Regions from separate parts of the Homo sapiens genome. Here region 2 is linked to region 1. A link means that fine-mapping ties the variant in region 1 to the expression of a gene that starts in the linked region. Tissue or cell type: aorta. Region 1 holds a variant in brackets; the other region holds the start of a gene. All regions are shown on one strand. Distances are between the middles of the regions.

Region 1 (8,087 bases):
CATCAGTCTTCTCTTCACACAGTGGAGTCACTCCTGTGCCTCCCCTGTCTGCACTCCATTGAGCCGGGAAAGGCCTGCAGTAGCCAATGCCCACATTTGAGTTTCAAATGTGAATATACCCAGGGATTGCAATTTACCAAAAGATGAAGGAAAAGGCCTCTCCCAGTACTTGGTCAACATTATTCTGTGGTATTTTTCAGATGAAATTAGCATTTAAGCCAGTATACTTTTAGTAAAGCAGATTATGCTCCATAATGTGGGTGGGTCTCATCCAATCAGTTGAAGGCCTTAAAGGAAGAAATACCTCCCAGGGGAAGAGGGAATTCTGCCCCTGGACTCAAGCCACTCTTCCTTGGATTCTAGCCACTGTAATCACACGAGACAATTCTGGACATCTCCTCCTCTCTTTTCTGTTTCTCTGGAAAACCCTGACTAATGCAATTCTTGTTAAGCTGCTTTTAAGAAGTGTGAAGAAAATATTAAAAAGTTGTAACTAAGAATTTTGAGTGGACGATCTAATTATTTCACACTGGCTGAGATCTCCCTGATGTTGACATTGCAATGACACTGTGCACTTCTTGGGGTAAGAAAAAGTGCAGCCTCAGTATCCCTCCCACTAAATAGGAAGGCAAATTGCCATTTCCCGAAAAGTCCAGAATAGTAAGTAGGTTGACGAGTAACTCTTGAAGTTACATAAGACAAATCAGTTGCAACAGAGGATCATAAACCCCTCGTGTACGGAAGGAAAACAAGTTTGTCAATGTGCAAACTGTAAGTCTAAGTTCCTACTTCTGTAAAAAGTAGAGTTTCCTCTTCAAAGACTTTCCTTCCCATCTCATTAGAAATAAATAGTAACTTCTCTTAGAAGCAAAATTTATTCAAAGACCTGTGCTAACATTGTTAAATATCTGCTAGCCCTAATAAAGAAATCAATGTACTTTATGATCTTAGCTCCCACAATTTAGCCTAAATATTTGCCCTGGCATGCTTATACTAGTCCAAGCAAGCTTTAGGTCATTGCCTGTTCCTCTTCTTTATTCGAAGGTGTTTTTACTTTTTTCAGCATTCCACAAGTTACTTCCTCCTTCCTTCGTTCTCCTCTGCCTTTTCCTCTTTAAAAAAGTTCTAAGTTGCTAGCCAATCGGGACAAATACAGAATGTGAGGTCCCGTTCCAGCCTCTGGAAACTGGACACAGCAGTAGGGTGGATGCATCAGGTTATAAATGACCCTGTCTCCTTTGCTCAGTATACTGTTGTGGCAAAACTGCTGGCGAGTGTACACTTTCTGCAGAAATTAAAAAAAAATAAAAATGGCCTTGCTGAGGAAATTAAATTTACATTCAAGTGCTAGTTCTTTACTGCACTGGGAACAAGCATTTCAAACAATTTCAACCCTGCTGGACTGCATCAAGTGAGGGCCGGGATGGAAAAGCGGCCGTGCCGAGGTGCCCCGGAAGCAGCCTCCGGAGTGTGCGTCAGAGTTTCTGGCCATTTCAGCTAAGACTTTTCTTCTGACAGACTAGAAGTGAAAAAAAGAATTATTTACTTTGCTGGGAAATGTGACAGAAGGTTAAAATTCTACTAGTTCACAAAATATTTGAAGCTAACTTTGTTTTTATAAATAAAATTGTATTTACAATTTAAGTTTTAGTTCTCATCCTTGCTGTTATAAAAGTTATTCTAAGTTATGTCAGTCTTTGAGGGTAAATGTAGAGTATTTAAAATAGCTTATATTTGGAAAACTGAACAGTGTTTGTTGTCATGATTTTACTTTGTTCTTGACCACATTGGTCCCAGAGAAAGTCAAGGTCTTCAGCCACGGATTCAAGATTCTTGTGGCAGCTGCTGATTTCTTTTCCAACAATGCTTGGGCCTCATCAGCGTCATGTTTGTGCACTACCTCAGCCCCAACCACAGACATGGGCAGGAGGAACAGAGCTCTACCGTGTAGCGTCACTGCCAGTAAGAGTCTGGCTCTCCCATGAAGCATTACTCTTCCTCTGCATGTATCTTAGAATTTCAAAAGCCATTTGGCCTCCATTTCTTTAGATTGTGGATAAGATCCATAAACTTGTACTGGGGTCACTGTTCCTCCAGCCTCTTTAGCACGTATCTGCAGTCTCATTTCCAGGCTGTTTCCTCTATGGGCCACTGCCTGCAGAATTCCCAGATGAATCCACTGCCCATTCCCTGTAGCCACATCTCCAAATCCACAGCCGTTCTCAGCAGCTGCCTGCACACTCACATCCCAGAGGTCAAGTTGCCACAGCTGGTGTGTGTTTCCAGCCACTAGGCAACCCCAGGTCTTCATCTGAGCACCCAGGGCCAGAAGTCTCACCCTGTCCCCCGTACCATCCCTTCCCAGCCAGCCACAGTTTCCTTCCTTCTGTTGCCCACACAGTGCTCTCAGCCCCAGATGCCCTTCCTGACACTTCCTCCCAAGGAAACCCAAGTCCTCCGTCAGGGTCCACCCAAATGTCCACACCCTCTGGTAGCCTGCCCAGCCCCAGAGGCTCCCCTGAGCTCCCTTCCCCCATTAGAGCCTACAGAGGCAGTGCTGCCCAGCAGACATCTCGGCTGGGAGTCAAACAGAGCAAGGCTATTTTGGTCCCTCTCTCCACTCTATGTGACCCTGAAATGTGCCCTGGCCTTAGGAAACATTCAGCTACATCAGAGAACGTGAGTATGCATGTGGTTTGTATAACACAGGCAAGACATGGTTTTTAGATACGTTCAGAATAGATAGTTACAGAGAACAGGTATGTTACATGTGGGAAGGAAGAGACACAAGGGCCAAGAGATACTTAATATGCATGAGGCTCCTGGGCACTAAATGTTCAATTCACAATGTGCCTTTATACAAGAGACACCTAAACATGCAGAACCATGGGGCCTTTGTTCACCACCATTCCTGGTGCCCATTCTGGTCCCATGCGTCCTCTGCCCAAGAAACACGTAGAACCCATGGCAGTGCGACAGCTGCTTCTTGGCAACGCCACCATGATCAGGCACACTTGTCCCATGTCTGTCCCGTTGAGCCGGTGTGTGTCATAAGCCCTTAAGCTGTGAGCACTCTTGCCCAGACCTCGGCTCTGGTCCTCGTGGTCACACCTGAGTGGGTGAGGTTGACTAGCAGAGAAAGAAGAGAACCGATGAATGTTGACAGCACAGGAATCAGGTCATACGGCCCTCCCATCTCCTTCCCTCAGCTTCTTGCTGTGTTTTACGAATGGATTTTATAAACCTGTGATTTGAGCATCCTCAGTTGCTTCTCGAGCCTTTCCGCTCCATGAACTCTGGGACAGCTTGCCTGGTACTGCAACTGGAGGACATCATTGCATCCAGAGAGCTTCCCACATGACAGTCTGTGAGCAAGGGACTTCGCCTCCCTGGATGGTGGTTTTCTTTTATGTAAAAGATGTGATCGTAGTCTCTATTTCTCAAGGGTGCTGTGAGAAACACACAGAATAAGTCCACGTGAAAGTGTGTGGCAGGTAGCGGATGCTCAGTAACGTGAAGCCTGCCCTTCCCATAGCCTTTCTCTTCCTCCACTGGGTCTAGACTTCACA[T/C]TGTCCCATGGTTCCAGATCCTTGGTTCATCCCGAGTCTTATCATCATCCCAGAAGCTTGGAGGGAGCTCCTGGGGAAATCCAGCTTCACGGTCCCACACTGATCACTTCCCCTGGGCATGGCCTGGTAAATGCAGCTCAGATCCGCTCCCCAGGCAAGTCAAGGAAGTTGCTGCCCAGAAACCAAGTGAGGACATTTACAAGAACTGGCGGCGGCAGCAGCAGCAGCAGCAGCAGCAGCAGCAGCAGCAGCAGCAGCAGCAACTGGATTTGCTTTTTCACCAGAGGATCCAGATTTCCCTGTGGCCTCGCAAACAAAAAAGAAGGAAGACGGAGCAGCACAGTCATTCCTTTGTGAAAAAGGCATTCAGGTAACTGAGTGACTCAGCAAGCCTGGGTCTTGGGGAAATTACGAATACCTGGTTGAAGGACAGTCCTCAGGCAGAGCCCCTGAGACCTGTTGAACTCTAGAGTGTGGGAGCAGAGGAGATTCAGGGCCTGCCCAGGGGCAGAGTGCCCCCAGGACTCGCCCTGGCTCAGTTAAGGACTCCCCTCAGGATCTGCAGAGGTGCAAGGCAGGGTGCAGCTCTGCCTGGACTGAGCTGGAAATGCAGCCGTGTGGCTGAAGTGGCCACTTCCTGCTTTCTGTAAAGCAGCCACAGGGACCTGTGAACAGGTAAGACCATTGCTCTTGATTACTGAAGAACTAGAACCCAGGCTCCCTTGACCTTCTCTCCAAAAACCCAGATGACACGAGGACCCTCTCCCAGCTGAAGGGGCAGATTCATGCTTTAGAGTGTGGGGAGTCAGCGTGGGGGCACGTGAGTGTTTAGCTTAGGTGTGGGCCTCACAAAAGAGTCAAAACAAGTCAGCCAGGACTCCAGCAGCCTTCATTGTGTGAGAGATGCCAGCACTGTGGCCACAGCCTGACAGCTGCGCAGGCCACATAATGTGTGGGGCCGAGTGGAAAACGTGGGTTTTTTGTTGTTGTTGTTGTTCAAAATCATGAGCTTCCAGGGGCGGCAGCAGAACTTTAAACTACTCTGGGGCCCTTCTGAGCACAGGACTTGGTATGACTGCACAGGGATACCCAGCAGGCCAAGTGCAGCGACAGAGCGGTCTGCCCAGAGGCCAGCAGGTCCCCAGTCAGTGTCTGGCACCAGCTCCCTTCATGACCTGGGCTGGCTCAGTTCCACGGGACTCCCAAGGCTGGAGGCTTCCCTGGAACATCATCCTCAGGGATTTCCCAACAGGAGCAGCCTCTGGCTTCAGATCTGTCCTTGTTTGACTCATAAATTATCACTCAGACTGAGAAAATTAACACTCAGTGATTCCTGAAAGGGTGCCCAGTGCAATAGATAATTTTCAAAGTGAGTTCATCGGGGGATTTAATAGCCAGGCGATGTCCATTAAAACAGTGACAAACATGGGGAGAAAAGGAAAAGTTCCAACTGGAAACTCATGCTGGCTTGACAGTTGTTCTCAGGGAGCAGAACAGAAGTGGGCATTTTCATTCTGGTTACACCATCAGCGATACCTCCACGGAGCCTCTCAGCTGGTTCCTCCTGGGTCTGGGCCACAGGCCTCCCAGTATTGCTGGTCTCAGAAGACATCTGTGGGCAGGTTCTGTAGAGGGAATCTGAGGCTGTGTGGGATGAGCTGCAGGACCCCATGTGGGGAAAGGCAGGAGGCAGCACCAGCTCCTTCACTAGGACCTGAGGGTACTGTGGCTCATCAGGGGCCATCGAGGACATGGAGACCCTGCACAGTGTTTGAGGAGTCCTGCTACATCAGTTTATTCTGGTTTAGGTGGTTGAGGGGAGACTGAGTGAAGTCTTGGGGATTCAGGGCTACACTGCCAACCTCTGGGACAGCAGCCCCAGTGTCCCCCGACCCAGGCCTTGCTCCTCCCTGCTGATGAATGCCCACTCTGCTCCCAGATGCACACCTGTCCTGAAGACACCCGGTTCTCATGCTCTTCTCTGCAGCATCTGAATTGGGCATTCCTGGGTAAAGCAGTTTAAGTTACTTTCACTTTTATCCACCTTGTTTCCGTTATTTCAACCATGCATGTACCTTGTGTATGTAGGATAAAGGTGTCTAAGAATAAAGGTCCATGATTTAAAGTTTTTTCCTCTTCTTTCCCTGTCCTGACCACCTGATCATAAACTTGTAGAAATAAAGTGGATCTCATGTTGTGTATCTTTCGATGCATCTAGAGAGATGGTTATATTCATATAAATAAACGGGCACATCCAGCACACTATTTCTAGTTGTCGTCTGCTAATAAGTTTACATCTGGTAAATGCCAGTGTTTCATCAAATGGCTGCATTGCACATGAGTCAATCTGTGTGACAAAGAATATGGCAGGTTTTGTACAGCCTTTGTAAAGACATTCTTCAATGCTGCCTTTTAAAATAGAAATGTTAAATCCTGTAACTAATCAACCTATGCCTTGTTAGAGGGCTGACATTTTCAATAATTCCTTTACAAAGGGTAGTGAGATGCATCAGATCCCCCAGTGGCCCCCAAGTAGGGACAGTGACAGTCAGCAGTTCTTTACGGACACCTGCTCGTTGGCAGGTTCTCCGCCAGCCCTGGCTGCGGGCGGCCCTCATCTAACAAGATGCTTCGGTCCATGGGTGGAGGACAAAGGCCTACAGGCTTGGGGAGCGAGTTCTTTCGTCTCCTACATGACCTTCATCTGCTCGCGTTTCCCACGAAGTGCATCTGGGTTGGAAGGAGATGGTGGTTTCCCACGGAAGTCTGGTCCCTAAGTGACGCCTCTGCTGCCTACATCAGAATCTCCCAGGCTTGCTCCACAGTGGTCCCGTCACGTGGTGCAGACTCAGGCGCGGTCTTGTGTGTGCAGAGGCAGGCTTGGTCTTGTGTGCTCTTGATCATGCACCTAGTCACATCTGTTCTACAGTGTTGCATTCTTCTAATTTCCATGCACATCTTTGTATAGGCGTGTTCCCATTGTTCCCATGCCAATAAGTGGTGTGCAAGGTTCCAGAGTGCGCCAGTATTTCTTTAGTCAGTGTCATGCTGTTGGATATTCAGGTTTTTTTAACCTAGTGTAAATAACATTCACATTTCTAAAAACCAGAAGAGTGTTTGTGATTAAGATATCATCTTAGTGGATATTAAATTGCTGCATCTGATTTCATTTCTCTTTCCCAAATAAAGAGTCAGTTGTGTGGGCTAGTCTCATTCTGAAACTGCACACTCCCATCCCAGAGGTAGAAAGCGAGATCTCCTGCCTGCATTTCATGGAGCATGTGATTATGGAGGTGTCCAATCCCAGCAAACAGACCCCACATTCTTTTCCTTCAGTGACTCAGACGCAATATGTGGACAGTCCCAGACAGTATCGCTCCCTCACGTTCATTAACCTCCAGAGATTAAACATCACCTGATACACAGAACTGTGGGCTCCCCATTTGGCTAAGCATCAGGTGCAGCCAGGTTCTTACCTAGGTGCACGTGACAAGGTGCTGCCAGATGCCACCAGCACAGACAGTCAGTGAGCCCACCTCATCAGAGGGCACATGAGATCCCCAAATGCGAAAGAACTCTAAGGAGCCAAAATCTGCCAAGATGGGTACATTAAAGCTTGCAACTTTGCACGTGAGTGCACCCTCAGACTCAGCCAGTTTATTCTCCTTTGCAGTCCATTCTGAAAAGTCCAGCCAGATGATGGCTAAAGAGGAGAGAATGGAAGGTGGAAGGCGGTTGCTGCTTGCAGAAGAGGCACGCTGGCAGCATTGGCAGGGAGGAAGAGACTGGAAACTGAGTAGCAGATCCGAGAAACCAAAATGCTCAGCAAATGAGGGCAGGTGGCATGGAGCTACTTCCCTGGATCCAAGAGCCTAATTACCTTATTGTTCCATAAGTTCATGGCCTGCGGTCATCAGGGAAAATAAAACACTGACTGGGGGTCAGTCTTTTCTGTTTAGAGGAGGCTCCCTGAAACCTCCCCCTCCCGGGTTCAAGCGATTCTCCTGCCTCAGCGTCCCGAGTAGCTGGAACTATAGGCGCCCGCCACCACTCCCGGCTAATTTTTTTTTTTTTTTTTTTTTGTAGAGACGGGGTTTCACCGTGTTAGCCAGGATGGTCTCGATCTCCTGACCTCGCGATCCGCCCGCCTCGGCCTCCCAAAGTGCTGGGATTACAGGCGTGAGCCACCGCGCCCGGCTTCAGCTGGTTTTTCAAAAGTCATGGCGTGTAACTGTCCGAACAGTGAACTTCGGAGATCCACCGGAGGGGCGAGGCCACAGCTCGACCGCGAGCACCTGAGCATCCTGCACCGCCTGCGACGGCCGTCAGGGGGCGCGATGCCGCCTCACAGAACCTCAAGAGGCGCCCGGGTTCCGGCACAGACGGCCTGCGGCTCCAGGGGGCGGAACCGAGCCGTCTCCTCAGGACCTACGCAGGAGGCGCCGTCATCCCTACAGGGACACCTGAGAGGGCCCAGCCTCCTCCTCCTCAGGACCTACTCGGGAGACGCCGCTGGCT
Region 2 (8,087 bases), 440 kb before region 1:
CAGCCTGGGCCAATTTAAAAGTTCAGTACTTGACAGTTTACTTTTTACAGACTCTTTCTCCTCAAAGGTAAATGGATAAAAATAGCAAGGTGGTAACTCTTAGACATCAAAGAGCTGATTTCCAGCGGTACAGTCGCTCACGCCTGTAATCACAGCACTCTGGGAGGCTGAGGCGGGCAGATCACTTGAGGTCAGGAGTTCCAGACCAGCCTAGGGAATATAGTCAGACCTCATCTCTATTAGAAAAATATATATTTTTTTGCCGGGTGCGGTGGCTCACGCCTGTAATCCCAGCACTTTGGGAGGCCGAGGCCGGCGGAACATGAGGTCAGGAGATCGAGACCATCCTGGCTAACACGGTAAAAGCCCGTCTCTACCAAAAAATACAAAAAATTAGCCAGGCGTGGTGGCGGGCGCCTGTAGTCCCAGCTACTCAGGAGGCTGAGGCAGGAGAATGGCGTGAACCCGGGAGGCAGAGCTTGCAGTGAGCCGAGATTGCGCCACTGCACTCCAGCCTGGGCAACAGTGCAAGACTCCGTCTCAAAAAAAAAAAGAAAAAATATTTTTTTTAAAAAGTAGGATTGATCTCAATTCATTCAACTGCTAAATTTGGAGAGCGACCCTGACCCCAGATTCCTGAAAGGGCTTTACCACACTAGCCACAACGAGGAAATGGAGCCTGTAAAAGAATGAGGTTACTGAGTGTTCACAAATGCACACCAAGGCTCCAAGATGAGATCTCCCGGGGTTCCAGAAAGCTCTGGGCATCGTTCAATCTATCGCCTGTCAGTGCAGGCGTGGTCAAGGCCAAGTTCAACCTGTCATCTATCAGTTCAGGTGTGGTCACGGCCAAGGTTATCTGTGACTGGAAAACAGCCAGCCTGACCCAGATGGCACAGTGCAGGCCAGGCGGGCCGTCCCACCCAACTCACTGTGGGATGCTGGCCAAACCGCCCTCCTCATCTCAGCTTTCCCTCACCTCAGCTTTCCCTCACCTCAGCTTTCCCTCACCTCAGCTTTCCCTCACCTCAGCTCTCCTCACCTCAGCTTTCCTCACCTCAGCTTTCCCTCACCTCAGCTTTCCTCACCTCAGCTTTCTCTTCCAGCCGTGTGTGGCAGCACAAAAACCCAGCTAAGGCAAAATCTGACTCTGAGGAAATCTGACATGGGCTTGAGAGAAGTCCCCTCAAAAGAGTTGAGTGAGCTGTGGAGTGAAAAGCCACAATTTTTCTTTTTTTTTTTTGAGACGGAGTCTCACTCTATCACCCAGGCTAGAGTGCAACGGCACCATCTTGGCTCACTGCAACCTCTGCCTCCCAGGTTTAAGCGATTCTCCTGTCTCAGCCTCCCAAGTAGTTAGAATTACACGTGCACGCCACCAGGCCCAGCTAATTTTTGTATTTTTAGAAGAGACGGGGTTTCACCATGTTGGCCAGGCTGGTCTCAAACTCCTGACCTCAGGTGATCAACCAACCTCGGCCTCCCAAAGTGTTGGGGTTACAGGCGTGAGCCACCACATCCGGCCTCCCAAAGTGCTGGAATTACAGCCGTGAGCCACCGCGCCCGGCCTCCCAGAGTGCTGGGGTTACAGGCCTGAGCCACCACACCCGGCCTGGCCAGCATATTTTTTGTGGCGGGAGGTAGATGTTATCTTTCATCTTCTCTCAGGGCAGAAAATCTCTACACATTTCCTTCATGATGATGACACGGTGGTACTATAGCTTTTCACACTTCTAACTAAAAGAATTTTTTTTGAGACGGAGTCTCGCTCTGTCGCCCAGGCTGGAGTGAAGTGGCGCGATCTCGGCTCACTGCAAGCTCCGCCTCCCGGGTTCACGCCATTCTCCTGCCTCAGCCTCCCGAGTAGCTGGGACTACAGGCACCCGCCACCACGCCTGGCTAATATTTTTGTATTTCTAGTAGAGATGGGGTTTCACTGTGTTAGCCAGGATGGTCTCGATCTCCTGACCTTGCGATCCGCCGGCCTCGGCCTCCCAAAGTGCTGGGATTACAGGCGTGAGCCACCGCGCCCAGCCCTTCAAAAAGTATTTTTAAAAGCCTGCCCATCACACCAGCCCAACGATGTTTCAGCAAACATAGGACTTCATTTTGCCAGATTCTTCCTGTTCTTTGGTATCCCTGAGCACACAGCCGGCTAGCCCCAGATGTAGAAGGTAAGAATTAGGGCGACCCATTGAGCACAGAAACGCTTGTGCTGGCTCCTGCTCAAACCTCTGCTTCCCCACATGGAGAATGGACGCAAAGAGCTGCTGTGACCAGGGCCTGGCACTCAGGGAGCGCTTTCTGTCTGAGTCCTTCTGATTTGCAGTGATGCTGTTTGGGGCAGGGGGTGCAACTGTCACTTTTTCTGGTGCCCTCTGACCCGACATTCCAAGTCCCGAAAGGCCGAACAGGCATCGCACAGTCCCCCCTACCGAGCTGGCGGGAAAGGGCGCCTGACGCTGAGGAGTGCCAGGGGCGGGGGAAAGGGTCCTGGGTCGGTGGTCGGGGGTCCAGGCCCTGGGCAAGGGGTCCTGGGTCGGGAGTCTAGGTCCCGGGTCCATGGTTGGGGGTCAGAGGTCGAGGCCCCGGGGAAGGCATACCGGGTTGAGATTTGGGGATGGAGGCCCCGGGGAAGGGGTCCCGAATCGGGGGTCGGGGATCGAGGCCTGGGGGGAGGGGTCCCGGGTCGAGGGTCGAGGCCCGGGGTAAAGGATCTCGGGTTGGGGGTCGGGGGCCTGGGAAGGGTCCCGGTCGGTGGTCGGGGGTCGAGGCCCGGGAGAAGGGGTCCCGGGTCGGTGGTAGAGGCCCTGGGGAAGGGGTTCCGGGTCGGGGATCGAGGGTCGAGGCCCGGGAAAAGGGGTCCCGGGTTGGTGGTCTAGGCCCTGGGGAAGGGGTTCCGGGTCGGGTATCGGGGGACGAGGCTCGGGAAAAGGGGTCCCAGGTCGGTGGTCGAGGCCCTGGGGATGGGGTCCGGGTCGGGGATCGGGGGACGACGACCGGGAAAAGGGGTCCCAGGTCGGTGGTCGAGGCCCTGGGGATGGGGTCCCGGGGGATCGACGGTCGAGGCCCGAGCTCTCCTGAGTCCTGCCCGCGGCCCCAGGTGGGCGGAGCCCACGCCAGTGGGAGAAGCGGCCCCGCCCCGCGCGCGAGTCCCCGGAGGACGGCCGCGACCTCTTACCGTCCATGGCCACAATGACAGGAGCAGCACTCGGAGAGGGAGAAGGGACGCCAACTCCGGGCGGTGTCAGGTCCCGGCGGCGATCGAACCGACCAAGCTGCACCCGGCGGGGACTTCCGGGGTCGCCGCCCCACTTCCGGTCGCACGGGATGCTCTCGCGAGAGGATGGTGGCCGGTCCCGCCAGAGGGGCGGGGCGCGGCTGCGCGGCGCGCGGTCGCCATGGTGACGCACGCCGCTGGCGCGAGGACCTTTTGTGAGTCGCTCCCGGCTCCGCGGCCGCGGAGGTGTGGGGACCCGGGCTTGCGTCGGAGGGGGCGGTGGGCTCACCCATGGGCCTTTCCAAAAGCAAAGAGAAACCCAGGAAAGGTAAAGGAGGCGCAGGCGCTGGGCTCCCCGCGTCTCCGCCCCTGGGCGCGGGCCCAGGGCGGGGCTGGGCTGGGCGGGGCGGTGTGAGCGCAGGCGCCAGGCTCGGCCCGGTGCGAACCGTTCCTGCCGCCGAGTCCGCCACGGACGGCGCGTTTCCCGCCTGAGGCGGTTACGGAAACGCGGAGACTCGAGACTTGAAGCCAGCTTATTCTGGACCCACGCAGGCGACTGAAGACGATGGGACCCACTGCCCTGCATTCGGTAAGTCCCGGGTCTAACGGATGATCCATATATTTCAGGTGAGGAGCAAAAGAAGGGATCCACCTATTCAGTTCCAAAATCTAAGGAGAAGTTGATGGAGAAGCATTCCCAGGAAGCCAGGCAGGCAGACAGGGAGTCGGAGAAGCCTGTGGACAGCCTCCACCCGGGGGCCGGGACAGCCAAGCACCCGCCGCCGGCAGCTTCGCTGGAAGGTAGGAGACGGCGGGAGGGAGCGAAGCGAGGTCAGTGGCTTGGAGGATCTGGGGCTGGGGTGAGGAGCCTACTGTAAGACCCTACCGGATGGACACTAGTAGCAGGCACGCGCCGTAAAGATGAAACTGGTTTGTTTTGGGAACTTTATGTAGGAGGTAAATATCCAGAAATCTTAGTTGAAAACATAAGTTTAATGAAAATGTAGGTCAGTTCCCGAGTGATAAGTGCGTACCAGGTGGTCGAGGGGCTGGGGCAGTGTGCGTGTGTCTCACCTGAGGTTCTCCTCGAGGGCTGGGTATCTTGGTGCCACTGAGAATCCCTGAGCCTCCGCACACTGGAACAGAGCATTGGGAGGCCGTCCCAGGCTGGACTGTAGCTCTCCGAGGGCTGTGGGGATAAGTACATTGCGGAGGGTGACCGAGGAGTAGAACCTGGGTGCGACAAAGGTGTCTTTTATAACAGCCTAGTGTGGCCAGACCTTTGGGTGTGTGTGGGGAAGATGAGGCCCCAAAAGTAGGAAGAAGCTAGAATACAAAGTTTTCCATCAGTTTTACCACGTGGAGCTGGAAGCGTTAAATATTTTAAACAACGGAGGTGCTGCCTGGGGCGGTAGTTCACACCTGTCCTCCCAGTTATTTGGCCGAGGCAGGAGGATCTTTTGAGCCCAGGAGTTCAAGACCAGCTTGGGCAACATAGTGAGACCCTGTCTCTACAAAAAATAAATATTTAAAAATAAAAAACAAGGGCGGCATGATGAGGTCTGTGCCTACCAACAGGGGAAGCCAGTTCGCAGGGGAGGTGGCCCGGTCAGAGACCCATTGCTGTGGCCCAGTGGGAGCCAGCAAGGCCTTGCAGTAGGAATTGCAGAAGGGTCAGGCAGGGAGAACCCGCAGAGCCTGCCGTCCGAGGAGATTGGGGGCCTGTGCCAGGAGGAGGTGTTTTAAGTTTCATCACAAGAATGAACCACTCGGCTGGGCGCAGTGGCTCACGCCTGTAATCCCAGCACTTTGGGAGGCCGAGGCGTGTGGATCACTTAAGGTCAGGAGTTCAAGACCAGCCTGGCCAACGTGGTGAAACCCTGTCTCTACTAAAAATACAAAAATTAGCTGGGCGTGGTGGCATGTGCCTGTAATCCCAGCTACTCAGGAGGCTGAGGCAGGAGAATTGCTCGAACCTTGAACCGGGACCCGGGAGGCAGAAGTAGTGGTGAGCGAGATCGCACCACTGCACTCCAGCCTGGGCTACAGAGTGAGACTCTGTCTCAGAAAAAAAAAAAAATAATAAGGAGAGAACCACTCGGGTCAGACAAGAAAGAATGTCAGGGGGATGACTGGCCTGCTAGGCAGAGGAGCTGGGCCTGGACTGCTTCACACTGACACGCTTGTAGGATCAAGGGCTGAAAGTAGGAGGCTCTGGGCCTTGGACTTGGAAGAAAGACTTGGATTTGAATTCCCAACTTTGGAACCTCCCACTGGAGGGTGGAACCCCTCACAGGAGGGCGCAACCCCCCACCGGAGGATGGAACCCTGCAGGAATAGCATCACCCTTGGGTGGCAGTTTGGAAAATGCTACCTGTCTGTCACGGTGCTTTTAGCTGAAAGTTACAGAAAAGCTCACTAAACGCAGCTTTAACACAGGGATTTAATGTCTCACGAATGAAGGGTCAGAGGTGGAGCTTCCAGGTTGGCTTGTTAGCACAACAGTGACATCAAAGACTTTGCGTGTCTCTTCTTGACCACTCTCAGTGTCCACAGCCCCCGATGAGTGTACAGCCCCCCACACGCAGGCAGGACTGCATCTACTGCAAAGGCATTGCTCCTTGCTTCATATTAGCAAGGAAACCTTTCCCAGGAAGGCTTCGCCTGCCCAGCCTCTGCAGGACTCATTCAATGGTGCAAATTCACCAGGGGCTGGAGGGAGCTGTGAAGCATGGGAGTGGGCAGGACCTCTGCCAGTAACGGAAGTGGGGGAAGGAGGACCGCCTGTTGGAAGGGCCCCAGCAGTGTCTGTCACACCAGAGGGTGGGGGAGGAAGGTGGACATGAAGGGAAAACAGCAGAGCAAGAGTGAGAACAGAGTTTCAGCAGATAAAATGAAGTGTGCACGCTCTCCATGCAGTGACGGGCTGAGCGACAGTGAGGAGCAGGCTGCTGACTCCCTTGCCACACCGTGAAGGAGTCCCAAAGGTGGGACACTGAGTGAGACAAGCCAGAGGAAAGACCACTCATGTTGCAGTTCCCTTTCCATGGAATGTCCAGAAAAGGCACATTTACAGAGAGAAGCAGATGAGTGGTTGCTGGGCAGAAATGGGAGCCGGCCACAGCTGAGCACAAGAGGACTTTGGAGGGTGATGGAAATGGTTTTCGACCTGAATCTGAACATGGGAAGCACTGCAGTTTAGTAGTCCTGGTCCCTAAGCCCTTCCAGCCCAGGAGCCAGACCTGTGAGCAAACAAGCCTTTAGTGATTCCAGGCTCTGGCTGGAACCTTGAGTCTTCTCAGCTTGGGGCATGCACCTCAGGGGGAGCCAGCATCAGTGTCCAGCCCCAAGAGCTTCCCTGTACGTCTCAGTGAGTCTTCACATGCCTCCAACTGCCTGGACAACCACACGTGATACCTGTCCTGCCAAACGTGTCCTGAACCCATAAAATCCAGAGAAAAGAAAATCGTTTTAAACTGCTGAGGTTTGGGGTAAGTTACTATGAAGCAGTAGTGAGAAGAACAGAAGGGCCATGATGGGGAGAAAGTTTGGCCATAAGTTAATCACTGTGGCAGCTGTTAGGATATTGATGTGGCTTGGCTGTGTCCTCACCCAAATCTCATTTTGAATTCCCACATGTGGGAGGAACTGGGTGGGAGGTGATTGAATTATGGGGGCAGGTCTTTCCTGTGCTGTTTTCGTGATAGTGAATGAGTGTCACGAGATCCGATGGTTTTAAAAACGGGAGTTTCCTGCATAAGCTCTCTCTCTGCCTGCTGCCATCCATGTAAGATGTGACTCGCTCCTCCCTACCTTCCGCCGTGATTGTGAGGCGTCCCCAGCCATGTGGAACTGTAAGTCCATTAAACCTTCTTCCTGTGTAAATTATTCAGTCTCTGGTATGTCTTTATTAGCAGCATGAAAACGGACTAATACAGATAGATGTATTATACTGTTACCCCTACTACTTCTGTATATGCTTAAATTTTTGCATTACAAAATTCACAAACATACAAACATTATAGAGAACTAACATCACAGATTTACAGTCACCTTATTCCACAATGTTGGAAATTCTACCACAAATAAAGAACTTGAAAAAAAAGGAGGGGATGTTAGAAGGAAATCTGAGCGACCTAGACCTGGGCTCAGTCACGCCTGAGACAGTCAGATGGGGTATCTGAGGATGAGTCAGTGTTAATTTTCTCAGACCTGGGCTCCGTCACTCCTGAGACAGTCAGATTGGGTATTTGAGGATGAGTCCGTGTTAATTTTCTTAGATGTGGGAATGCTATTATAGTTACGCTAAAACACAATCCCTATCTAATAAATACACTGCAACATTTATGGGTAAAATCATATGTCTGAAATTCCTTAAAGATACTCAGAATGCCAGGCATGGTGGCTCATGCTGTCATCCCAGCACTTTGGGAGGCCGAGACGGGTGGATCACTTGAGGTCAGGAGTTCGAGACCAGCATGGCCAACATGGTGAAACCCTGTCTCTACAAAAAATACAAAAAAATTAGCTGGGTGTGGTGGTGCACACCTGTAATTCCAACTACTTTGGAGGCTGAAGCAAGAGAATAGCTGGAACCCAGGAAGCAGAGGTTGCAGTGAGCCACGATCATCCCACTGCACTCCAGCCTGGGCAATGGAGTGAGACTCCATCTCAAAAAAAAAAAAGATACTCAGGAAAAAAACGAAGAAAGAACAAGATAACAAAATACTGATTGAAGCTGAGTGCTCTATAGGTGCAGGTGCTCATTCACTATTCTATTTTCTTGTGTGTTTGAACACTTTTTTTTTTTTTTGAAATGGAGTTTCCTTCTTGTTGCCCAGGCTGGAGTGCAATGGCATGATCTCGG

The links. PIP is the estimated chance that this variant, and not a neighbour inherited with it, causes the effect.
Region 2: it holds the start of CHMP1A, and the variant in region 1 is fine-mapped to the expression of CHMP1A in aorta (GTEx, PIP above 0.99).

Annotation. Positions count from the first base shown.
Region 1 is chr16:90,098,504-90,106,590 of GRCh38, forward strand. FAM157C (family with sequence similarity 157 member C) reads left to right here and starts at 3,761. Exons shown (of 4, transcript NR_126161.1): 1 at 3,761-3,939; 2 at 7,656-8,087. LOC105376786 (a long non-coding RNA gene) reads right to left here and starts at 3,660. Exons shown (of 2, transcript XR_933914.3): 1 at 3,245-3,660; 2 at 2,676-3,129. The variant T/C (reference allele first, on the strand shown) is at 3,570.
Region 2 is chr16:89,654,401-89,662,487 of GRCh38, forward strand. CHMP1A (charged multivesicular body protein 1A) reads right to left here and starts at 3,308. Exons shown (of 7, transcript NM_002768.5): 1 at 3,182-3,308. The coding sequence starts at 3,188. SPATA33 (spermatogenesis associated 33) reads left to right here and starts at 3,436. Exons shown (of 3, transcript NM_001271907.2): 1 at 3,436-3,548; 2 at 3,848-4,021. The coding sequence starts at 3,512. RefSeq lists silencers at 3,035-3,094, 3,315-3,704 and an enhancer at 3,420-3,589.